Linked DNA regions of Homo sapiens: regions 2, 3 and 4 are each linked to region 1. The links come from fine-mapping of genetic effects on gene expression. A gene starts in region 1. Each other region holds a variant in brackets. All regions are shown on one strand. Distances are from middle to middle. Region 1 holds the start of IMMP2L (inner mitochondrial membrane peptidase subunit 2). Region 2 overlaps IMMP2L (inner mitochondrial membrane peptidase subunit 2). Region 3 overlaps IMMP2L (inner mitochondrial membrane peptidase subunit 2). Region 4 overlaps IMMP2L (inner mitochondrial membrane peptidase subunit 2).

The links. PIP is the estimated chance that this variant, and not a neighbour inherited with it, causes the effect. A credible set is the group of variants that fine-mapping cannot tell apart.
Region 2: its variant is the best candidate, but not a certain one, in a credible set for the expression of IMMP2L in monocytes (CEDAR, PIP 0.86).
Region 3: its variant is the best candidate, but not a certain one, in a credible set for the expression of IMMP2L in whole blood (INTERVAL, PIP 0.63).
Region 4: its variant is the best candidate, but not a certain one, in a credible set for the expression of IMMP2L in CD8 T cells (Kasela 2017, PIP 0.74).

What each region holds. Positions count from the first base shown.
Region 1 is chr7:111,559,785-111,566,085 of GRCh38, reverse strand. It overlaps IMMP2L (inner mitochondrial membrane peptidase subunit 2), which reads left to right and starts at 3,594. Exons shown (of 6, transcript NM_032549.4): 1 at 3,594-4,235. RefSeq lists a silencer at 3,433-4,062.
Region 2 is chr7:111,213,688-111,219,988 of GRCh38, reverse strand. All of the region lies in intron 3 of IMMP2L (inner mitochondrial membrane peptidase subunit 2), which reads left to right. LOC124901725 (a long non-coding RNA gene) reads left to right here. Exons shown (of 2, transcript XR_007060477.1): 1 at 1-6,301. Among named protein-coding and RNA genes, the nearest start is that of LRRN3, 130 kb to the right of the region's middle. The variant GAC/C (reference allele first, on the strand shown) is at 2,890.
Region 3 is chr7:111,404,991-111,411,291 of GRCh38, reverse strand. The region is part of intron 3 of IMMP2L (inner mitochondrial membrane peptidase subunit 2); the gene reads left to right. Among named protein-coding and RNA genes, the nearest start is that of IMMP2L, 150 kb to the left of the region's middle. The variant T/C (reference allele first, on the strand shown) is at 2,769.
Region 4 is chr7:110,774,170-110,780,470 of GRCh38, reverse strand. The region is part of intron 5 of IMMP2L (inner mitochondrial membrane peptidase subunit 2); the gene reads left to right. Among named protein-coding and RNA genes, the nearest start is that of LRRN3, 310 kb to the left of the region's middle. The variant A/C (reference allele first, on the strand shown) is at 2,650.

The sequences.
Region 1 (6,301 bases):
ACAACATATCACAACAGCCTGAATGCAGAGGCAGAATATGAGAATCCAGTGCTCTCCTTAAGCCAGATAATAAGAGATTTATAAAATGTTAAAAATGCCACTTTTCTCTAATTTTTTGGAAAAAAAGTAGTCATTATTTATAAAAATAACTTTTACAGTAACATGTAATGGGTTTAAATTAAGCAAACACATGTCTAACATTTTTCTATCTTAAATTTTAATACAGTAAATATGGACATATATAACCCACATAAACAACAGCTCTTTAAAGTTCTCAATCATTTTTAAGAATGTAAAGAGAACTTGAGATCAAAAAGTAGTTTGAGAACTGCTACTCTATGATACCTTCTATTATTTGCTTACCAATGGTAAGTATGTATAGATAGGAATATATTTTAATATCTATATTTGTGGAATCTGTAAACTTAATTATTTTAACTTTGTTTAAATATCTCTTTGACCATTAGATTTGATGCCTAACTATAGTTTAAATTTGTACCTTAGTTAGGACTTTATGATTCATTTTCCCCTGATGGTATTAACAACAAATAGAGGTCTGCTTTAATATATAAGGAGACAAGGCAAATATATTTGAACTAGATACATAAAGCCAAATATTCAGCTTAGAATTTAATTGATAAATTAGAATAAAATAGGATGCTCTAACTGCTGCTTCTTTTTCTCATAAACTTTTTTCTCCCAAAGATCAGTTTCAGGTTCAGAGCAAAATTGAGCAGGAAGTATAGGGTTCCTATATATTCCTGTACCCCACATCTGCACAGCCTCCCTGACTATGAATATCCTGTACCAGAGCAGTATATTTGTTACAATTGATGAACTTACATTGACATCATTATCACCCAAAGTTGAGATTTTATATTAAGGCTCCCTCTTTGGGTTGTATATTTTATGGGTTTGGACAAATGTATAATGACATGCATCACCATTATCATATCATACAGAATAGTTTCACTGCCCTAAAAATCTGTGCTTCATATCCCCCTCCTCTGTGACCTCTGGCAATCACTGATCTTTTTACTGTCTCCATATGTGATGGTTAATACTGAGTGTCAGCTTGAATGTATTGAAGGATAGAAAGTATTGATCCTGGGTGTGTCTATGAGGGTGTTGCCAAGGAGATTAACATTTGAGTCAGTGGGCTGGGAAAGGCAGACCCACCTTTAATTGGGTGGGCACCATCTAATAAGCTGCCAGTGAATATAAAGCAGGCAGAAAAACATGAAAAGGAGAGACTGGCCTAGTCTCTCAGCCTACAGCTTTCTCCTGTGCTGGACGCTTACTGCCCTCAAACATCGGATTCAAAGTTCTTCAATTTTGAGACTCGGACTGGCTCTCTTGCTCCTCAAGCTTGCAGACAGCCTATTGTGGGACTTTGTCATCATGTAAGTTAATACTTAATAAACTCCTCTTTATATTTATATGTCTATCCTATTGGTTCTGTCCCTCTAGGAAACCCTGACTAATATACCATAGTTCTGCCCTTTCCAGATATTAGCTTCTTTTTAAGTACACTTGATGAATCTTAGTGATAAAATCAGGCCAGACCTAGCAACTCTTTTTGTATGTTTATTGACTTCCCAATACAATAAAGGCCATAAACACCTGTCTTTGTTGTTTATTCACCTACATTCCATCCCAGACTGTCAGTTCCTAGTGACCAGGAGCTCCATTCAATTTGGGGTCATGGTACCAAATAGTTCTTGACTGCTATTTGATGAGGGTGGTCCTGTCACCTAAGTGCTCTTGAAATTAAGTCCTTAAGCACTGGCCGAAAAGAGCTTACTTTGCAGTAATTATTTCAGTGACAAGTAAGAAAAACTGGGACATATCCCCTTCACAGGAGAGCAATTTTGCTCTCTTTAGGAAACTCTTGGAATTTTAGTTATCAGGCTATTTAAGACCCTGAGTAGATTCTTAAACCTTTAGAATAAATTTTGAACCAAGAGTGCCAGAATGTCTGTTATTTACATTAGTATTAAGTGATCTGAAAGTGCACAGAGTAGTTTGGCAGTATCTAGAGGGAGAATAGAGACAGAAATAATGAAGATACAACTGGAGGAGTAAGAAAAGGAGAAAAAAAGTATTTTATGTCTGTTCAGTATTTCTAGGTGCCACTGCTGCTAAATGCCTGGGCTTCAGCCTAGGTTGGGTTGCTCCTAGCAAAGAAAACCAGTCCCTGAGACAACGAGTATTGCCAGGGAAGACAGGCTTTAATGCAGGTGATGCTGGCAGGGAGACCAGTCTCAAACATGTCTTAGGGAGACTAAAGTTAGGGCTTTCTATAGCAGGGAATTATGGAGGGGTAAGGAAGAGGAGTTTGTGAACAGGCAGCAGATGCACCTCATTGTCCAGATGTAGTGTTCTGGAAAGTTGCATTTCCTTGACACTATCTGGGAGGTCTGACAGTTTATCTGCTGAGAAAGGAACTCAGGTAAAATGCACGCAAGTTTCTCAAGTTTCACTTCGAAGGGAAAATTTGGCCGGTTTCGGTCTTCCCTTTCTATTTATCAATTCCTCAATCATGCGGAATCTGGTAGTTGATCTTTCTGGCTGCTTCACGTGAAGGAAGGGCATCTTGGGATGATATGGAATGAAAATATCGCACCTGTAATTGCAAGTACTTACGAGTACCTGGTTGGCATCCAGCTTGTTGGAGCACCATGATTTGGGTACTTTCATCAACATTTTAAACCACATTGAATTAGGATAATTAATAACATGGATAAGAAGGTTTCTTTGTAGGTTGTAATAACCCAGTTAAGAGTTTGTACCATTCGGCCGGGCGCAGTGGCTCACGCCTGTAATCCTAGCACTTTGGGAGGCCTAGGTGAGCGGATCACGAGGTCAGGAGATGGAGACCATCTTTGCTAACACGGTGAAATCCCATCTCTACTAAAAATACAAGAAGATTAGCCGGGCATGGTGGCGGGGGCCTGTAGTCCCGGCTACTAGGGAGGCTGAGGCAGGAGAATGGCGTGAACCCGGGAGGCGGAGATTGCAGTGTCGCTCTGGCGACAGAGCGAGACTCCGTCTCAGGAAAAAAAAAAAAAGAGTTTGTACCATTTGAGGGCAAAAGCTTCAGTATGAAATTCCCGTTTCTCTCAAGTAAACCGCCTGTCCTGTGTTACTCACTTTGTTTTACCTGGAGGCAGCAAAACTGAATAGTTTTCCTGAGTGCTCATGAGTAGGAAAAAATGAAATGAAGAGTTGCCCAGAGATCGCTAGTGAGGTGCTTTGCCACTACTGCCCTGTACTTAAGTAACTGTGAGGGTTCTCTGTTTCCTGGCTTCTAAAACAAGAGGAAGAGCTGAAGACACAGTTTCATAGACTTTTCGGCTCTTTATTGTAGTCTCCCCCATTAGTACGTTGCTGAGCTTAGGGCAAGTGCTCAATAATAGCTTGCTGAATTAGTGTTGTGTTTGATCCTTTCAGATCCACGCCGCATTTTGAGCCCGACCTGGGCGGGCGGTCCAGAGACCAGTTTTCCGCCGGGGGCGGAGCTTCGGGCGGCCAGCGCGCGACGGGGCAGCGGGGCGGAGCTTGCCGCCGGCGGAGGGCGGGGTCTGCGCGGGGACTTCCCCCGGGCTGAGCTGCGCAGCGGGTGCGGAGGGCGGGCGCCCGGCGTCCGGCGGCGGGTGGGGGGCTGTGAGGCTGGCAGGGGTCGGCGGGCGCGTAGCCGCCGACCCTTGGTGGTCTCTTGGGCTGGGGACCCTTCCCTGGGAGTCGGCCCCGGCCCCGGCGGGGCGGGCGTTGCCGGGAGGCGGAGGGGTGCGCGGCCGCGAGTCCTGCGTGATCGCGAGCATGTGTGCGTGCGCGTGTTTATCTGAGGCGCGTGCGGCGGCCACCCCAGCCTAGTCCTCTTCTTGGTGCCACTGGCTAACTAGGTTGAGAAACCGGCGCCACAGGCGGCACACCTGGCCCGGAGCTGGCCCGCTCCTCCCCGCCGAGCCGGCGCCCCAACAACGCGCCCTCTCCCAGTCCTCACAAAGGGGCCTAGTCCGGCCCCCGGCTCTGGCCGTGAGGGAGCGCTGTGGGGGCGCGCTGCCTTCTGCCTGGAAGTGTTGGGCAGGTGGTGGGAGAGCGTCAGGCTTGAACAACATGATTTTAAAGCACGTGTCTGTCTGTCGTTTTTTACTTTTAGGGTTTTGGCCAAATTGGGCGAGGGCACAAAATAACCACTTACCCCTTCTCACCGAGGAAGAGCGGGAGAAAGGGTAAGTAAGGAATGGTCAGGGGTGGAAGGACCTAGGACTTTATCCTGAGAGCGAGCGAGAGAGAGAAGGGCTAGATGTCCAGAACTGCTCGTGGGGAACTTGGGCCCAGATTCTACCTTTTCATCGGGAACTGGAGGACCCACCTTCAAAGTCACAGGCTCCAGGCCCCGGACTGTTTTCAGCCTCACACAGTCTATAGAGTTTAACAGCTTGGGCATGTGGATCCCTTTTAGCCCCTTGACCCGACAGAAAACTGCACTTCCCCTTTACCTGTTTTTACCTTGGAACATTGGTCCTCTCTAGTTGTCTGTCTCCGGCCCCTATCTTATTAGCCAGCTTTGACTAATCCCTGAGACCATAGCACTAAAGAATCCAGGTCCTGTTTGATAATGAACAGTAACCCCCCTAGGGATGTTTACATTTTAAAAGGGTACTCCTGAAAAAATCCTTTAGGACCCCAAAGCATAAAGTTAGTAACAAGATTACAAGTGTTGAAGTTCTTTGGGATCTCTCAAGCTTACAGAAGAAGATGTTTTGAGGGGAGAGAGATGACCAGGCTGGGCCTTTTTCTCTGGGCTTTCACTCTTGGTACCTCCTGGCAAGCATTCCATTCACTTTTGAAAAGTTGCCAAAAAGGACACTGAAGTTCTCTGAGGCTTACTGTGATTTTCAGTGTGGTCTATTTCATTGGTTCTTCTGTGGGACTTTTCTATCACTTCTTTAATACACTGCTTCCCTCTCCCCTGTATGGTGAAATGAAACACAGCTCCTCTCACAAGGTTGGGAGCTCATTATGCATCCTATATGTCACATATAAATAACCGTTTTAAATTAGTTGAAATTCAGATTAGCTACAAGCAGGAATGTAGTAAAACTGCATTCTTGGATTCTTACACAGGAAAAGTAGAATTGCCCTCTGTGATAGGCTGCCTATTCTGATACTGGCTGCCTGTGTCCTGAACGTGCCTATTTGTTTGTGCTCAAGTGATAGGTGACCACATAATTTATGGAAAACAGGAAGTGATTGTTTATTGATAATGGGTTCCTTCATTGATTCAATAGCTAATTCTCTCTTACCATGTGCTACGCACTTTTATCAGCACTTTGATAAAAGTAGGATGGTGAGAATGATGAGATTGTATTGGAGATGGCTGTTTTGGGGTAGGCCTTTCACCAGTTTTGTGGATTTTCTCAATAGTTACATGTTAATTTACAAGACTTTCCCTGTACTACTGATCATAGTGGTTTGCAGGTCTATACAGTGTTGTGGGAGAACAGAATTATTATTCCGCCTTTCTAGTACTTTCAGTAATAAACTTACAAGGATGGCTGACCTTGATGATTTGTTTCCTATAATGAATAATGTTATAGTCATTTTCCAGTGTACGAGTATAATAATTAGATGAGGATAACTTTTGTAGTTGTTCCATAAGAAGGACCTAATATTAGGAATCATGGAGAGTGTAAAGGATGATGTACTTAGAAAAATAAATTCGAAAGTAGACCATTTTTAACTTGCATGGGTTTCTGTGCATTTAGCCTCATTTAAAAGATCTAAGCTAGAATAGTTCTTTGTCTTTTTCTGGTTATAAGAGTAATAAAAAGTCAAAAAAAAGTTATTTAGAATTAAATCTGGGAGGGTATAAAAGGCAATAAGTGAGTTTCCTATGAGTCCACTTTCAGATGACCACTTAACAATTTGATACTTGTTTCTTCAACTTTTTGTTCCATATATACACATACTAAATATGCAGCTTAAGTATATGTTAAACATGTATACATCTTAACTGCGTATTATATATGGAACATATGTGGAACATAATACATGTTTTATATATATATATTTCACTGTTATTTGATAAAATTGTAAATTTCTTTCTTTTTCTCCTTCTTCTTGGCTATTTACCACCCCTCCTCACTCCACCCCACAACTTCATGTAGAAGTAGCATGACTTTTACAGTCTTTTGGACATGAGCTTGATTTCTGGCTCTTATTTTATTAGCTGTGTCACTTTGGGCCATTAAAATTTCTCTGCTGCTTGATTTCTTATCCATCAAAACAGAAC
Region 2 (6,301 bases), 350 kb after region 1:
TCCAAATTTATTTTGTGAAATTTCTTTTTCCACTAGCTACTTATTGGCTTCTGATAAAAGAAGTTAAAATAATATTCCCATTGCTTGAATCATTCTATCACTACTCTAAGATCACTTTCTTGCTTATGGATACCTCATTTACTTCCATTAATTTATTGAAAAAGCTTTTCAGATTAAACACAATAGAAACAGGTTAACAAAGGTAAAAAAACATGATTAATTTCTTGTTTTATAGACCAAAAAAATTAGTGGTACTGTTTAATTATTGCAGTTGAATTTGATTCAACCAAACAGTGATTTGAGATCATAGAATACTGACAGCTAAGGCAAAAAGACAGCCATATTAAATTAGATGTGATTTCATTATTTCATAAGATAATGCATCCTAAGAAATCATAATAAAATATGTAAGCAAAAATAGAGACTCACTTAATTTGAATAATATGTGAATTAATTTTATGATATCATTAGAGCTAATTTTTATGTTTAGCTAGCCCTGTTTACTTAAAATTTATCCACTGGCAAATACAATAGCTCAAACCAATGCAGAAATATTAATACCTGCATTATTTGTTTAAAATTTAGGGTCCTAGGCCTTATTTCCAGAGATTCTGGTTTATTAGGTCTTGGGAACAGTCTGAACATCAGCATATTGATCATCACAGGTGGTCTTAGGATTACACTTTTAGAAATAGTGCCTCAAACAAAGAAAAAAAGTTATGACTTTACTGTATTTGGGTCATTATTCTAGATTTCAAAAAGAGGCTTTTAAAATTTTTTAGTAATTTGGCATTTCAAAGTAGAGTAAGTTAGAAATTTCCATGTAAAAATAACTTGTGATGGTTAACAGCTAAACAGCTAAACCCAAATAGTATAACATACATCAATAGTTGATTTTGTTAGCCACGTAGTCTTTTTCTTTCTAGCTTAATACCTCTATTTCATGCCCTGTTTTCACTCCTTCACAAGTTTTAGTGGCTCAACATAGATGAATTTTGATCTTGTATAGATATTCTAAGTTGTGGATGTATTTGTTATTTCATATTTTAAGCAGAACTCTGGGATTTTAAGAAAAGTATTTATTATTTTGTATTAGAAGAGGCAGGCCCTTGATTTTCAAGATTTATTATACTTTTGTAATAACTGGCTGTAGTCAGGGGCTCAGATATCAGAACTGTTCATGGGGAAAGTAATTTCCACTGATGTCATTTCTAACCAAGTGAGTGACATTGATGTACGTAGCCCTGGCCTATAACTGGTCAGCCTGAAATAATTAATCAGAAAAAACAACTATTTTAGTACCTGACTGAATTAAAGCCTTATTGGTAATGAACTAGGTTAATTGGAGTTCTCCCATCTCGAGACTTTCACAACTGTCTTTAGGTTAACGAAAATATTTTAGATCTAGCTGAGTGTATAGCCTTGGATATTTCTGTGATTTCTTTTAAGATCATATGGGGAACGTTTTATTTACGTTGCCTGGGGTTTATTGGTGCATTTCTCTTTAACATTGTAATGGGAAAAAAAAAACTGATAAAACTTTTGAAAATATGGTGAAAGTTTCCACTTGTGTTTTATTAAATGTAGGCGATACAACATAATAGCATAGGTACATGCATTCTTTATTTGCAGCTCTTTCAGGAGGAAGACATTAATTTTCATAAGAAATATGACATTTATAAGAATTGAAAAGTTTAAAAGGAAGTGCACAGAAATTGGTAAGACTTGTAAAACCTTGGTTTACCAGGTCTGGTGATGTCTTGCATAAGAAAACTTCAGAACAGAGCAGATACTTGGGACACTTGTTTATATTTTGCTATTTGTTTACTAAGACCATAAATGCTAAGCTAAACAATTCATATATAGGGAAAGAGTGAATAAAGAGAGAAGATTTTATTATTTTCCTTAGGATTCAAATTTTCTGTCCATCATAGAATCCTTTGATTTTTACTTCTTATGAAAGCACAAAAAGGCAATAGCATTTTCCGTAGCTCATTATTTTGAAAAGAAAAGTGAAGAACATGAAAATACTGCTCCTGTTGATTCTAACACCCACCTCCAGAGAGATACCGAAGACTTTCAATTCATAGTAGAGATCTAATCTTGCCAAAAATACTAAACTTAATTTTTATATTAAAAATAAGATTTCTAGAATATATAGGGAAGATGATTGATAGTTATTTCATGTCAGGCAGTTTTTCTTCCTTGTATTAGAATTTCATTCATATTGATTATTGTTTAGTATCATAATTTTGAGGTAAAGGATTACCTGAAACTATTGTAATTTGCTTCTAATCAGAATATAAAATATACTAGTTTTGTTATTGTTTATAAAAGATAAAGTAAAGGAGATTGGATAATTCTGTCACAATTCTCTTTCTGACTCAACGGACGTTATTAGCTGTACTCAGCATTGATATCCCTTTATTCCTTTGCTTACAGTATATCCTAGTTTCTTCATGTAGCTACTCTGCTCTGCTGTAGGCTAAATGCTTCAGGAGAAGCTGACCCTAATCCAAGCTCCATGAGTGGGCTTTATTAGTCTAAGGTGAACACCATCTTTCTTACCACTTCTTGTTTCATGTGAAAAGGGTCAGGTACCCACTTAAGCGGACTGATATTAGGAGTAGTGCTGGTGCCTCCCTGGACAGGTCTTCCTTTATTCTCACTGGGAGAGTTTCTTGAATTGATTCTCCTTCTATTCTGCTAGGCTCCTGGCCACCATTCTAACACCAAAAGGAGAGCTAGCTTTAAGATAAAGAATTACTACAGATTGCAGAACAGAGAAAAATATTCCTAACCAGGAACATTTTAACTCCACTGCATATTGTGTGTGTGTGTGTGTGTGTGTGTGTGTGTGTGAGAGAGAGAGAGAGAGAGAGAGAGAGA[GAC/C]GGAGGGAGAGAGAGAGAGATCAGAAGATGAGGAATGTCTTTGATAAGAATTTACACTGGCAATTTTTTTTCCAGAAAATTCCAAAGGGAAAATTAAAATGTGCCATTTAGGGTTTTATTTCAAGTATTTATATGGGCAAAATCACTTGCATGCATTTGATAAAATGTCTCTTTTTCTTTTCCCCCACCCTTCAAAGGTGTTATTTTATCCACTGCAAGACTTCAAAATGGTTATGTGATTGACTGAATATAGTCATAAAGCCAAGCCTTCTGAAGTTGAAGGGCTTATTGCCTTAAATGTTATTCTTTTGATTATATGGGTAGTCTATTTGCATTTGTTAGTGCCTCATATGATATAATTGGATGTCTCATCTTTTGCCAAAAATGTTAGAATCTGAGAAACCATTTATTTGAAAATTCCACTTTAAGGGTACAAAATTCAGGTAGACAGGAGGAATATGGTATTTCTTTTTAGTTCTATTGCACAGTGTGGTGAATATAATTAATAATAGAGTACTGTACATTTTAAAATTGCTAAGAGAATAAATTTCAGATGTTCTCTCCACAAAACAATGGAAATATTTGAGGTGATGGATGTGTTAACAAGCTTGACTTTATTATTCTACATTGTATTCATAAATCATAACATCACTTTGTACGCCATAAATTTATGCAGTCATAAATTGACAATTTGTGATAAAAATATATTCCAAAACTAAAATTCAAAGCAAGTTTAAGATGTGGAATGTATCTTGAACTATTCCCTCTTTTTCTAGGAAAGAAATAAAATACTGATATAGTTAATCCTTCATCTGTTTCTTGCTATCCAGCTTGACAGGGAACATTTTAAAACAGTGCTCTTGAGAAGAGACTATCTCAATGAATATCTACTTGGGACCTCCTCAAAGGAAAGTGAGATGACAAAATTGGTGATGTATGTGACTCCATACTCTAGTGACAGAGAAGATAATTACGGTGAGGTATCTGGAATGATCCAAAGGCAAATTGGAATTTTCCAAGAGAGAATGAAGATGTATTTGTGAAGAGAAAGACAGTTGGAAGGAAATGTTATTTTAGTATATATTCTGGCCATACATGACTTAACAAGTATGAATTTCAAGAGGACAATAAAAGAGAAATTATAGTAATCAAGATAGGAAATGATTAAAGAATGGGAGAAAATTTTAGCTGAGAGGGAATGTGAAGATTAAATACAAATTCTAACAGCCTGGTTGACAAGTTGATGAGCACATTTACAGATGAGAAATGAAGAAGGAACAAAAGAATGACTTCAACAGTTTTGTGTAAGAGCCAGCCTCAGGTTTATATTAGAAAGAATGAAAGTAGAATTTGAGCAAAGAAGTTTCTGAAAGAGGAGAAAATTAATGTTTTGCCACAGTTTCCTTCTAAAGCTTACCCAATGATTGACATACTTTTCTTTTTTAAGTGCCTATTTGTGGGTGATCTGATACTTTTTGTATCTAACCTTTCTTTTATTATTGAAAGAAATAAGACAAAATTCAGGAAGGAGAGAATGTATATCTTTTTTGAAATTAGACTAAATGGGTGCCTTCCATGTTTTGCCTGTTATGTGTAGTAAATTTGATCTTGTAATATAAAAGTAGCTATATTCAAATAGGCTAGAATATCTTCATGATTCTTGTTTGGGAAAAATAATTGTTACTTATTTGCTAGCTGTATTAACTGTGCAGAAGCTGGAAAAACATTGGATTTTGGGTCAGATTCAGATTCGAGTGTAATACTGTTACTTAGCAACTTTTTGATTCTGAGTAAGACACTTCTTCAGGCAGAAGGGTATGATCATAAGTATGCATGGGAGGCTCACCAATGAATAGAATGGCTCATGTAGATGATCTGGAAAGTACTTACAGTGCTTAGGAAAGAGTACTTCTATTTTTGTTTTTGTTTTTTTCTTGTACATATATAATGTCTCTGTGTGGTTGCAACCATTGACACTTTTAACCAATGGTAAATATAAGGAGTGATGGGTACTATGGCAAACTGGTATCTGAATTCACAGTTTAAAGTATGTAGATTGCGGTGATATGTGGGAATGAGGGCATAGTTTTGCAAGAACTGGTTTTTGATTTTTGTTTTTCTTTCTAAGGAGGAGACTTAAGTTTGGAGTTTTTCTGTGAAGTTTTTCATTTATACATGTAAGCATTTCATCAGAAAACAATTTTGCTGCGCTGGTATGTGTCAAACAAAACAAGTCTTTGAGCCAGATCTGGCCTGTGGCTGTATTTTGAATGTTCTACTTTAATCTCTATCTCTCTCTCTTTTTTTTTTTTACATGGTTATGGAGCTCTGGATAATCTACACAGTATGTACTAGAGTTTGTTTAAATGTTGAACAAGATGCTGAACATTCTTAATATCATATATTTTATTTAGGTGAGATTTAACATAAATTTGAAAAAAAATTGGCCAGGCATGGTGGCTCACACCTGTAATCCCTGCACTTTGGGAGGCTGAGGCAGGTGGATCACCTGAGGTCAGAAGTTTGAGACCAGCCTGGCCAACGTGTTGAAACCCTGTCTCTACTACATTAAAAAAAAAAAAAAAAAAAAAAACAGATTTGGTGGCAGGTGCCTGTAATTCCAGCTACTAGGGAGGCCGAGGCAGGAGAATCACTTGAACCCAGGAGGCGGAGGTTGTAGTGAGCAGAGATCATGCCACTGCACTCCAGCCTGGGTGACAGAGTGAGAGACCCTGTCTCAAAAAAAAAAAAAAAAAAAAAAAAAAAGAAGAAAAATTACTTTGTCATTCATTCACTGGATTAAAAACAAATTTGCTAAGAGGATACATTTAATTAAAGCATAGAAGGACTCAAAGTGATTGATTTTATTTCTCTAATTTTAGTAAGATATAAACATGAAATTTGTTTTGAGTGTTTCACACAGATTTTCTAAATAAGCAAGAGAAGATACCCTTGGAAGGGACTGGATAGTAAAAGGGAACAGATGATGAAGTTTTATAATTTTTTTCAAGATAAAATCATTACCTGCCTATTTAATTGATTTATTGTGTATTAAAAATATATTTCTACCCTCAAGTTTACCAAAGTTAACCATCATATATTTTACATTAGAAATGTATGAATACTTATAGCTCTTCACTATTCATGTGACTTGGGTCTTATTTTTTTAAATCACCTTTTATCTTAGATACAGGGGGTACATTTGTAGGACTGTCACATGAACAAGGCAAAGAGGAACTTTATTGAGCAACAGAACAGCTCCGAGGAGACCCACGTTGGATAGCTCTCCGCAGGCAGGTCATTCCTTCAAATGTTCAGCGCTCATTAGATAGGAGACTCTGGTGTGGGTAGCTCCTCTCCACAACTGGTCATACTGTCATCTCTTTAGCTCTCAGCAGAGAGGAGAGCCT
Region 3 (6,301 bases), 150 kb after region 1:
TTGAAAAATATTTGATCTGGCTGTATGATTTTTAGTCTCACAGTTTTTTTCTAACAGCACTCTAAGAATGTCATTCCATTTCCTTCCAGCTTGCATAATTTCTGACAAGACATGTGTTATTATATTTACTCCTATATTATGTGCCTTTTTTTCTGGGTACTTTTAAGATTTTTTTCTTTGTTACTTTTTTTTTTTTTTTTTAGCAATTTGATTATATCATGTCATGGTTTTTCTTTATTCTTCCTGGGCTTTGTTGAACTTCTTGGATTTGTAGGCTGATATTGTTTATTAAATTCAGAAAAATTGGGGGCATGTTTTCTTTAAATATTTTCTTGACCTCTTTCCTCTTATTTTAGTGCTTGAATTATAAAAATGTTAGATTGTTGTTGCCCTCACATGTTACCAAGACTGTTTATTTTTAAAATATTTTCTTCCTTCATACTTTGTTTAAAATAATTTATGTTGCTATGTTTCCAGCTTCACTGATATTTTCTGTAGTGTCTTATCTGCAACATTTTCGTATCAAAAATATTTTTAAATATTTAGACACTTAATTTGGTGATTCTCAATATGTTCTCTTTGTCTTCTCGTTATGTTCATATTTCCTTTAAGTCTTTAATCTTATTGAACTTATTTTAATAGCTGTTTTAAGGCCTTTTAATGTTAATTTTGTTATCTTTGTTAATTGGATCTGTTTTTATTGACTGATTTTTCTCCTAGTTGTGGGCAACATTTTCCTCCCTTTTATTTGTCTGTCTCTAATTTTTTTTTTCACTGTTAGGCATTGAATATTAGTATTTACATTGTTCAGCTGAATTTGAACAATGTACATACTAATTTACATTGGTTTTTCTTTTTGGTTACTAATGTAGTACTAATTACATTTTGGTTTTTCTTTTAAATGGTCTCTCTCCCCACCACCCTCCACTTTTTTGGTAGGCATTTAAATTATTTGCAGATCAGCCTGCTCATTTCAAGGCTATTTTTGTGCTTTTCAAGGATGATCTAGGGTAATCTTTAGAGCTAGTTTAGACTCACTACTAAGGCATGAGCTTTCTGGAGTCTCTACAGAATACTCTGGGTATTCAACAACAAGGGCTCTTCATTCTTGGAATTGTTCACTTTATAACTCCCCTGAAATTGATCTTTTCCTGCTATTTTTCACTTGGCTGCTTGGAGTTTCACCCTATGCAGCACAGATTCCTATTCAAAGCCTCATGAGTATTCTTATGCCAATCTCTGCATAGCGTTCTTTTTATCTTTAATATGTCCCACAAATTCCAGCCATCCCAGTGTCTTCAAACTCTAATCTGTTTCTCAACTTATTTGGACCATGAGGCTCTGAGTTCCCCATTCTTATACCACAGTTTGGACTTTGCATCTAGGTTGGAATAGGGGCAGTCTTAGATATCACCTGATTTGTTTCCCTTTTGTTAATAATCACATGCCTCTTCTGCCATTGGTCCACTATCTGAAATAGCTTTATATATTTTGTCCACTTTTCTAGTTATGTATAGGATTTTGAGGGCAATCCTGTAGAAGTTCAGCATAATTATTTGTTTCACTTAAATTTAATGAATGTAATTTTTCTAAATCTGAATATTGAATCTGGCTACTCTTAGAAGCAAGCTTTATGTTACTGTATGTTTTTATTTTCAGAAATTTCAAATCTTTATATAGAGACCATAAGATTATTTAACCAAGGTTATACTGATGTCTTAAAAAAAACTCTCAGGTTTTTCAGAAGATACCCTTTAGGTAATTTAATTTTACTTGCATGTATGTGCAAGTTGGTGATGTACATGTACAGCTTCTTTTAAAAATGGATTGGGACCTAACAATGAAAACATGCAGTTGTAATGGTTCTTACTGTAGTGCATGTTGAATTATGAGAGTTACTCATGGTTATATGTTATCCATGGGGACTTTTAATATGCTTGGTTATACAGATCTGCAAATTTTTAGCTGTGGGCTGATAACCATATTGAATCATAAATTTATTACTGATGCATTGCTTTCTAGGTGGACGTTAAATTTTAAGAGAATTAAGGGTAGGAATTGGCTTTCTATTATGAAATGGTTTCTTCAACTTTAAATGGATGTCTTAAATGTAAATATTACTAGTTTGTGTAATCAATACACAAAAACATTATTTGGAACAAAAATTAATTACAAAGTTTCTTAAGAATAATAGAGGAAATGCAAAATATTTCTAAATAAAAACAATTTAACTGACAGAAGCTTGTCAGCACTTAGCAACATTTATTTTCAATTACAAATGGTACTTTTTATCACCATTTTTATTCTAGCTTTGTATCAATATATCATCTAGACAGAAAGTGCTGATGTAGGTTTTTCAGTGCTAGTCTGCAAAGGAATTGAAGGTGAATGTGGTTTTAGTTACATATCTTCCTTCCTCTACATCTGTGCTTTGTGTTTTATTAGACTGCTTAAAATACATTGTTGTCAAATATCTAAATGTCAGGCTTGCTGATCATTTATATGCCTTCATATTTAAAAAAAATATTAACTACATACAATGTGGTTATCAGCTGTCTTTTCTAGGGGTATCTGTAAATTTGAGAGTGTTTTATTGGTAGATACATGAGAAGTTAGTATCTCCAAGTATTTCATTCATATTGGCTTACTGCCATGTGAAATTTATTACTGAACTTTCATATGAAAAAGATAAAACACACTGTCATCTCATCTTGTCCCATTGTACATTTCAGTTACAGGAACAAAATGATATGCTTGCAGTTCTGTGA[T/C]ATGATGCACTAGAAAAATCTTTATTATAGAGATTGTGTGACTTAGAGTTTGTGTGTGTGTTTATGCGTGACTGTTGCAGAATAAAGTTGTATTTATGTGTACCCATAGTGATATTTCTGTGTCTGTATGAACATAGTGATTCAGTAGATTAGATCATGAGCATTCTTTATATTTGTCTACAGTAATTAAGTCTCTCACTGAATATGCACCAAGTACTGGCCAAGCTGTCTTATAATAAATATTATACTTATTACTTGTTTCAATGGCTATACAGATAATCAGAAGTGTTGCAAGTTGGTCACTTATTGGAAAATCTTAAATACGCTACTTACAGGGAACTTACCATGTATGTACACATATGGTATTATCTTCTACTTTTTTGGTTTGTTTTAGATAAGTGCTGTTGCTTAGCATTTAAGGTAGAATGTTTTATTTTTATAAGTTAATTAATATATATTTAGTTCTATGACCTTGAGCATGCTATTTAATTTTCCCATGCCTGAGTTATCTCATCTCTGAAATAGGAATAAAATAGTTCCTGCTTCGTAGGATTGTGTTGAAGATTAAATGAGTTAATACAAATGAAGCACTCAGAACAATTCTTGAACCTAAGCAAATTTTCAGTGAGTAGTAGTTATTGTCACCATTATTATTAGTCAATTTAAGAATCAGCCAGTAATATTTATTTTTCTTTTTTATGTCTTTATTTATATGTAATTTACATTTCATAAAATTCACTCATGCTAAGTATAGAAATTGATGATATAGTGAATGTATAGGGTTGTACAGCCATCACTGTAATCCAATTTTGGAATGTTTTAATCATCCTGAAAATACTCCCCATGGCCATTTGCACTTACTGTTATTTCTTACCCCTACCTCCAGGCAACCAGTAATCTATTTTGTATTTCTATTGATTTTCCCCTTCTGGATATTTCATTTAAAAAGAATCACACAATAAATGGTCTTTTGTGTTGGCTTCTTTCCCTGAGTGTAATGTTTCTGAGGTTCATCCATGTTACAGTATGTATCTGTATTTTGTTCTTTTTTTTGCTGAATATTATTTTTTGTTTAGATGCACCTCATTTTGTTAATCCACACACCATTTGCTAGACTTTTATGTTGTGTTGCTTTTAGGTATTATGAATAATACCATGAATATGCTTTTATAATTCTTTCCGTAGATATATGTTTTCATGTCTCTTAGGCAGATTTCTAGGTATGGTATTGCTGAGTTGTGTGATATATTTATGTTTAACTTTTGAAGAGACTGCCAAACCTGTTTTCCGGAGCTGCTGTGTGTACCATGTTACATTCCCATGAGCAGTGTATGAGGGTTCTATTTTCCCCACAACCTCACCAACATTTGTTATTTTTTATCTTTTTTGATTTTAGCTATCCTAGTGTGTGTAAAGTAGTATCTTATTTTGGATTTAATTTGCATTTCCCTAAAACACATATTTATGTGTCTTACTCAAGGTTACACCCCAACTCTGGGGATACTGGGAATTTCATTATGTATATGTCGGCTCAAAGACCCTGTCTCTTTTCCTCATGTGGGATAATTTTCAAAAACTATACCCACTGCAGAGGTTCCTGTGGCTTAAACCTCTGTTAGAACCACACTGCAATTCAGCTTCTTTCTCTGCCTGTCCTGCTTCCTTCACTCCCTTTCAGATGTTGTTCCTAAGGGCACTCCCCAAAATGCATGCAAATCCCAGAATCTTAGAGCCTGTTTTCTAGGGAATCCACCTATTAACAGGGATATAGAATTGATAGGAGTCACTAATTTAGAGAGAGTGATTAAGGAAGACCTCTAACTTGAGGTAATCTTTGATCAGAGACCTGAATAAAATGAGGAATTAAACCACCTAGATAAGTTGGGGGAAACTTTTCCAGACAGAAGAGCAAATGCAAAGATCTAAGGCAGGACCATGCTTGACAGTAAAAGACCATGTGGGGAGTGACCAGAGTCAGTAAGAGGGAGGAAAGGTAGAATATAACAAGAGGCCACACCTTGCATGGCTTTTGAAGTGTTTTCAGTAATGGAATTCCATGATCACTCTAGATGCTCTGTAAAAATTGAGTGTAAGGGACCAAGAACAGAAATAGGGACCCAGTAAGGAGGCTACTACAATAGTCCAGGTGAAAATGGTTGTGACTTGAGTTAGGGTGGTAGCATTGGAGTGGCTGAGAAGTGGCCAGATTCTGGATATATTTTAAAGATGTACTTTTTTGATGGCTGGGATATGGAGTATGAGAGAAATAGAGGAATCAAGGAGGATTCTGAAGTTTTTGGCCTAAGCAATTGGATGAATGGAAATTGTGTATTGAGATACAAGAGGCAAAGGAGTGGCAGGGGTGGTAGAAAGCAAATTTTACCTTTTAGACATGTTAAATTTGTATGCCTATAAGACATCCAAATATAATGTAGAGAAGTTGTCATTCATATCTGAGTCAGGACTGAAGATAGAATTTGGGTAATTTTCAGGATATACATTATATTTAAAGCTATGCACCTTAGTGAGATCACCTAGACAGAGATTGGCAATTTTTCTTCTGTAAAGGATCAGAAGCACTATCTAGTCCTTGTTGCAGCTATTCAATTTTTACCTTGTATTGTGAAAGGAGCTGTAGACAATAATTAAGAAAATGGGTGTGGCTGCGTTCCAATAAAACTTTATTTATAAAAATTAATAGGTGGTAAGCTACATTTGGTCTGCAGGTAGAGTTTACTGACCTGTGACCTAGACAGTGAATAGAGAAAGACAAAAGTCCTATACCCCTCCTAGGGTAGTCCAACACTTAGAGGTTAGGAATAATGGGAGTCAGGAAAATGAGAAGGAGCAGCCAGTGACCTAGGAGGGAAACTCAGAGAATGTGATTAGGTTATCATTTATGTTTCTCCTCACTTCAACTATGTTTTTAAGTGCATAAATAATTCATGTAAAAATCCAAACAGATAATACTCTAATCTTTTATAATCTTACACATATTGTTTCTCTGATATTATACTTTGATATTCTTTAGAATTTATGTGTATTACAATATAAAATGTTCATAACTTTTTAGAGATTTGAGTGTGAAGTTCTAATAATAATTTTTAGTGCATTTTTTTCAAATATGCTATTTTTAAACTATAATGTGTGGGGTTATTTGTTAAGATGATGTAGTTGGAATTTTCTGTTCCTGAACTTTTAGCTGGTCTCTGTGTTCGTGGTGCCTGTATACTTGGGAGCAGTAAAAGCAGAGAAAGAGAGTTCAGAGATAACAGATAAATCCTTTAAATTTGAGTATTTCCATTTCTTGAGACCTTTGAAATTTTTATAAAAGTACACCATTGCACATTGTCTAGTAAGTAACTAAAAATGAGCTGTGTAAGCACATGTGAAACTCACTAAACCATAGTCGGTAAAAGGAGTTACAGACTTGTAATGTCTTAGCTCAGAAAGATAACTGATTGTATGTTACCAGAAGTCTTGGTTAAATTTGTACTGTATTTAATTTGTAGAACTGTAGTTCTAGCAATCTA
Region 4 (6,301 bases), 790 kb after region 1:
CAGTTTATATGTGGGAATTAGCTCTAGAATATTTGCAGAAATATAGAGACTTTGAGAAAATCTTATTTTCAAGTAATATGCTTGCCAGTGGTGAATTCTCAACTTTCTTTTCAGCACCAGTGTAAACCGTAACAGTTTGTTTTTTTTAACACAAAAACCTTTTTCTATCTAGTATATAGAGAACTAATCCAGAGAGTCAGCTTCTAATTCAATTATAGGAATTGAACAGTACACTTAATTTCCTGAATACCAATTTGGATCAACCTTGTTTTTGAAGCTTTGGTGCAAGCATTCAAATCATAATGAAGCAGAAAAAGGAACCAGGATATCTCAGCTCTTCCTCAAGAGATTCTTACCTAAGCGAGCCACATAAATAACTCATGTGTCAAAGATGATTTTAAAGACAGTACAAAAGGTAGAAAAATAAAATATTTTATTTAATTAACATTAGAAGATATGTTCGTGACAGTACCCGTGCTAAAAAGGTTGTAGCAATGGTTATTTCATTTATTTCTTTTATAGCCAACGTGTGTTTTCCTCTTTCTTTAAATCAAATTCAGAGTCCAGATCCTTTACTAACTTCCTAGTTAGGCAGTTCCCTAGGAACTTTACTCCTGTATTTTCCTTACTATTACAATAGTAACAATTGTTATCAGCATGGCACATGGATGGCTGAGTAAGATCCTGCCAGGAAAATAAATATTAACTCTTTTAACCTGGGTAATTTTAGTTAATCCCTGGTAGAATATGCTGCGGTGTCCTAGGGCCCTGCAAGGTGATAACACCCCTCTTAAATAGTTTTTCCTTGCTTACCGTAAAAGTTGGGAAGTACTAGATAAGCCATCTGTCTGTTCCTAGAAATACCACAAATCTGTGCATTGTAGACTGTTTTGCTACACATGCTGTTTGGAGTTTAAGAACTAGCTACACACAGTAGCACATCACCAAAAATTCCCCTGAGTCAGAAATGCCTTTCTCCCCCTGCCAGACCTCAGTTCAAGTCATGTTTTTCTCGATAACTAAACCTCCATTGTTCAAATTTAGTAAGAACAGTGCCTGCTGACCCAAATTTGCTTTGCCTCCATTGGTATTTTTTGATAACTTACTATATTTTTCAGGTATAGAAGATGTTTGAATGAAAAGACAATTATTTACACTCATTGCATATAAAAATAACTTTGATTTCATTTTATTTGCTTATAACAAAAGCTATAAGAATAACTAGTAGAATCTCTTCCTTTATTTGTTACTTATATATCAGACTGTTGTAAAGTGGACAAAATAAAATGACTCTTATGGCCAGTTTGTGCTGGGACTGGTTTGTATTGACTTCTGGGAGATGGTTATTAAGTTTTCAGTTTTTTGATTGATTGTTAAAATGTAGCCATGATTAAAAGTCAAATTTTATAAAATCGTTACTTATAATTAAAGGTAATAAATCCTCAAGACTTCGCTTTCTATTCATGTTACTGCATTTTACTACTCTACATGGTGGACAAAATGGTATAACACTGAGCACCACTTCCCAGCTGGATGTTCAATCATTTTAACCCGATGACTTGATTTTGGCCATGGTGAGAGAATTTGCACCACAAAATAGGCAGACACTACAAATCAGCTTCACCACACTGAAACCAAAGTGTTAAACATTTTCCAACACACCACTTATAGCTGAATAGTATTTGGAAAAAAAAATAGATGCTGTTACAGTTCTAGGGCCACATATCTAAAATGATGGTTCTTAAAGCACCTGTGTTTCTATCCTCTGCTTACCTTATTTTAAAATGTAATTTCTTTGGTTCCATCCTTATTCTTCTCAGTAAGGTTCTCTTGTCCAAGTAATTATTGTATACACTAAAATTTAAGAGCAGCTGTCCTAGAGCTTTCTGAAATATGGAGGAATAAAAATAAGTTTGCTCTATTTTAGTTTATTTTTACATTGAAAAAGAAGCTAAATTCTGGTGGTAATAGTAATGCTACAGCAATGAGAATAAAATCATTCACTAACTTACAACAGAAGTAAACGATGATGAATACGTGCATCATAAGAGATTATCAGCATCTTTATATCCCAGCACTTCTTCCAATAATGACATAGATGCTAAATACATGTTCCTTAAGTTGAAGACAAAATTCTGAATTGTTTGATATATTCTATTTCCTATATTTTGTTTAATACACTCTTTTCTTTAAGTTTTATATTTGGTCACATATGTAAAAACACAAAATTTAAAGTCTGTTTTTCTTATTAGATAGAAGTATTAAATAGAATTATTTAAAATATCTTAAAGCTTCTAGACTCTCTGTCCATTAGATTTCTTCACTGGAAAACTTTTGTATGACAAAATATTTTTCAGCTCCTATATTTTTGCCTTCATTTGGTGGCTCTAGAAGCCAGATGTTCATCTTAGTAAAGTTGACATAGTCTCATCTTCTTCCTAACCCAGCACTACCTTAAAAACTGCCAAGAAGTTTTAAGTGTGGGTGTTTCAGTAAAAAGGAATTCACTGCTGTCCATCAGTTAGAAAATGTTAGGTTTCCCTTTTTAGACTAACAGAACAATAAATGAAAAACAAGTCAAAGCTTTAGAACAGGAAAGACTTATTTTCAGTCTCTTAAAATAATTAATTAGATTTAAAATAAGACTGC[A/C]TATGTAACCACCAAACTATATCTTTTTTAACAGTTTATTTGGCGTTAAGATTTTCTCCCTTGTAACTGTCAATATGGAAATTTTGATATAGTGGATCTGTAAGCCACCACTATTGCAGATCCTCAGAATAACACATATTGTAGCAAAATTAATGCAGAATGACACTTCTGCCAAACATATTTATAGAATGAAGCTTATATAACATAAGACATTCTAGAAGCAGTGTTCATTCTCCAGCTCTGCAGCTTTCTCAGCAGTATTCCTCAATATTATCTTTGGTATAGAATATTCATATTAAATTAACGGGCTAAAGAAACTTCGATTTACGGGGTCTTATTGGAACAGCAAGGTTAAAACTAGGTTGTAGGGAAAAATATTACTGTAGGAAATATGCATTAGTAGCAGGTTTGCTTTCAAATTGTCCCGGATGACTACATCTTGCTTATTAATATTGCTACAAATCTATTTATCCCCCATGGAAACATGGCTCGTGGGGTTGTCATAGCTCAGAAGAGTTGTGTTCACATATTTATGAAGTTATTGCCTGTGTTTTCCAGATGTGGCCCAACCAAGTGATTTTCAGGCACACCTGCCGAGCTGGGCTCCTGTGGTAGTTGCACAAGAATGCAGTCTTAAGAAGTATGCATCCCTGAATGGTGTGCCAATGATAAGAAGGCCCATGGGAAAGGATTTGAGACATTCTCAGGAATTTCTAGTGATACTAATTTCTTACTACTTTTATCCTCCCACACCTTCCTTATGTTTAACACAGAGCTGCTGTCAAATTCATAGCCACACATATTAACAAACCCTGTCTTAGAAAGTTGCAGGAAGTTACCATGAAGTTTACATGGTCCCTAGTCCACACTTCAATGTGTAAAGAAACACAAAATCAGTGGGGAAGACAAACATTTTTTTAAAAATCAACCCTCTGCAATAAGATAGAATAAACACAATACCAGATACAGTGGGAGGTATAAAGTAAGAAGTAGTCTTTTCAACTTGAGGCATAAAGAGAAAGCTTGACCAAGAAGGTGACCCATGGGCTGAGTTTTATAGTCGTCAGGCTTTCAAAAGAAATATTGGTACTTTCTAGAAATTGAGGATAAGTGGAAGATATAGATCTCTTCCCCATTTTAAAAATGAAAACAAGTTATAATCTGAATACTGCCATACATTTATCAGTATGCAAGTGCAGTTAGTCAACAACTTGTTAATTCCTACTCAATTCAACAATTAGCTTTAAGGAAAAGCTACTCCAACAATTAGCTTTAAGGAAAACTTCACTCCCTAGAAGATGCAACAGTATTATAGTGGTAGGATCAGAAAGCCTTCTGCTCTGCTCAGGTGATGGTGTCCTCAGTTAAGGGGGCCACACAGCTAAAGCAAACTCGAGACCTAGTGTGCTATTTGACTATTGGGCTGCTGGACTCTCGTTCATGGAACGTAGAGATACCTGTATCATTTTTCTGGGAAACCGCCTCTCTTAAATACCACTCATTTTTATCAAAGATTGTTTTTAACATTACTTACGCGAATTAACTCACCCTGTTGTACAGAAATAATGGTGATATTTGAAGTGCATGACACAACCATCTCTGTAGTGTGGACTCTTGATTATGATCTTCTGATGCTAACTGCCCTGGAGTGGGAATTACTAATGACTTTGGTGTTCATTAAACATCCATAGGGTGTACATTAGAGATAATTTACACACATACACAGTCACTGTTTATTATGAATTATTTTATTCAAATTACGGATTATTTATTATTGGCAGGAGTATGATGTTTTAACTATATTTTGAGGTTTATAAGTTCCTTCCTCAATAAGTTATTTTTCATGCGTTTTTTTTTACATGTGTGTATTTTGCTTATTTTATGCATGTATTTTAAAATAGCAAGTTGACTTTGTTGCCTCTGGAGTTCCACAGAACCAGGGTAATGCGTGGGCATGGAATACTAACAAGGAGAAACAGCTTCCTGTTTAAGAACAATTCCCATGTTTTTTTTTTAGAGGAGAAAATTGAGAGCTGTTTGGTGGTTGCCATACTTTACATTTACTTTACTCTACATTTAATGTTTTGTTCTCCAAGTAAAGAAGAGTAACATTAGATGTAGCAAAAACAAAACATATTTTTATTCTTCAGAGCTTTCAATTATGAAAGAACGAAACTTGAAGATGAAAAGTATTTTGAGGGTTCCTCTAGGTATGGCTTTGAACTAAAGACAAATGTGTGTATTTGAAAGTTTAAAACATTCAACATTTTTTGTGTGTGTCTTGGAATACCAAAATAAAACCTCCATGGGCTGCTCTCTAGTCATGGTTTTCTCTACTAGTTTAAGTTTAGAAAACACTTCATACAAATGCCCTCTTCTTTAGGTTTCCAATTGTTATCAAGTATTTACTTGGAATTTAAATAGAATTTTTCTGTTTCGGGTGACACTACCCATAGCAATTGACTCAACTTACTATCAGTTCTATGTTTTGTAAATGTACACACTTTAAGCTACACATACAAGCTGTATTAGATCAGAACCACACACACACACACACACACACACACACACAGCTGACTTAAGCATTATGCACTCGTAAAATATTTGGAAAATGCAGAAAAGTAAAAGAAAACAGGCATGATCTCATTATCAAGAGTCAGTAAATTCTTGGGATGGTAATGTATTTCCTACCCATATTTTCTATATGCATAAATTTTTATTCCAAAATTGAAACAGCATATAAAGTTTTATATCTTCCATTTCACTTGCTACAAGTATTTTCCTATATCACTAAGTAATCATTGAAGGTGTGATTTTAATTGGCTGCATGGTATTCCATCCTATGGATTTGCCAGGATTGATTTATTTAACCAGTTCATTATTTTTTTACACTAAGGAGTTTTGTTTACAATTTAAGGATGTGTATGTGTGTATTTCTACACATAAGTACAGTCACGCATCACTAAATGCAGGAGATCATTATGAGAAATGAGTCCTTAGGCCTTTTTGTCATTGTGCAAACATTATATAGCACATGTACACAAACCTAGATGGTATACCTACTATACACCTAGGCTATACAGTATAGCCTGTTGCTCTTAGGCCACAAACCTGTATAGCATGTTACTGTTCTAAATACCGTAGGCACTTGTAACACAAGTGTAAGTACCTGTGCATCTAAACATAGAAAAGGTATAGCAAAAATATGGTATTATAATCAATGAAAATGCTACCATATATGCAGTCCATCATTGACTAAAATGTCATTATGTGGCACATAACTATATTTAAATTGAACTTCCTAAGATTTTAAAACAGATTTATATTATTTCATAATATGTGAAGGGTTTTTTGTTTCCTTCTGGATAAAAGTAGTAAAAAATACTGTTAAAGTAATATTTTTATAGATGACTATTTGCCTTGGGGCCAGGAAAAGCAGCTGGAGTTATTCACTTAGTACCATTTTTACATACTAACTTTGCCTTTTCCATGCTTGCTTGATGCGGTTTGCAGCACTGAAGAACAGTTTCAATTGCTAGCCAACCAGAGAGCATGATCAAACCAAACAAGTTCCCTGTTTCAGGAAAAACAGGTTTTAGGTAACTGAAGGTTTACCAGTTACTGATTCCACAATCTTCTCTGTAAAATATTT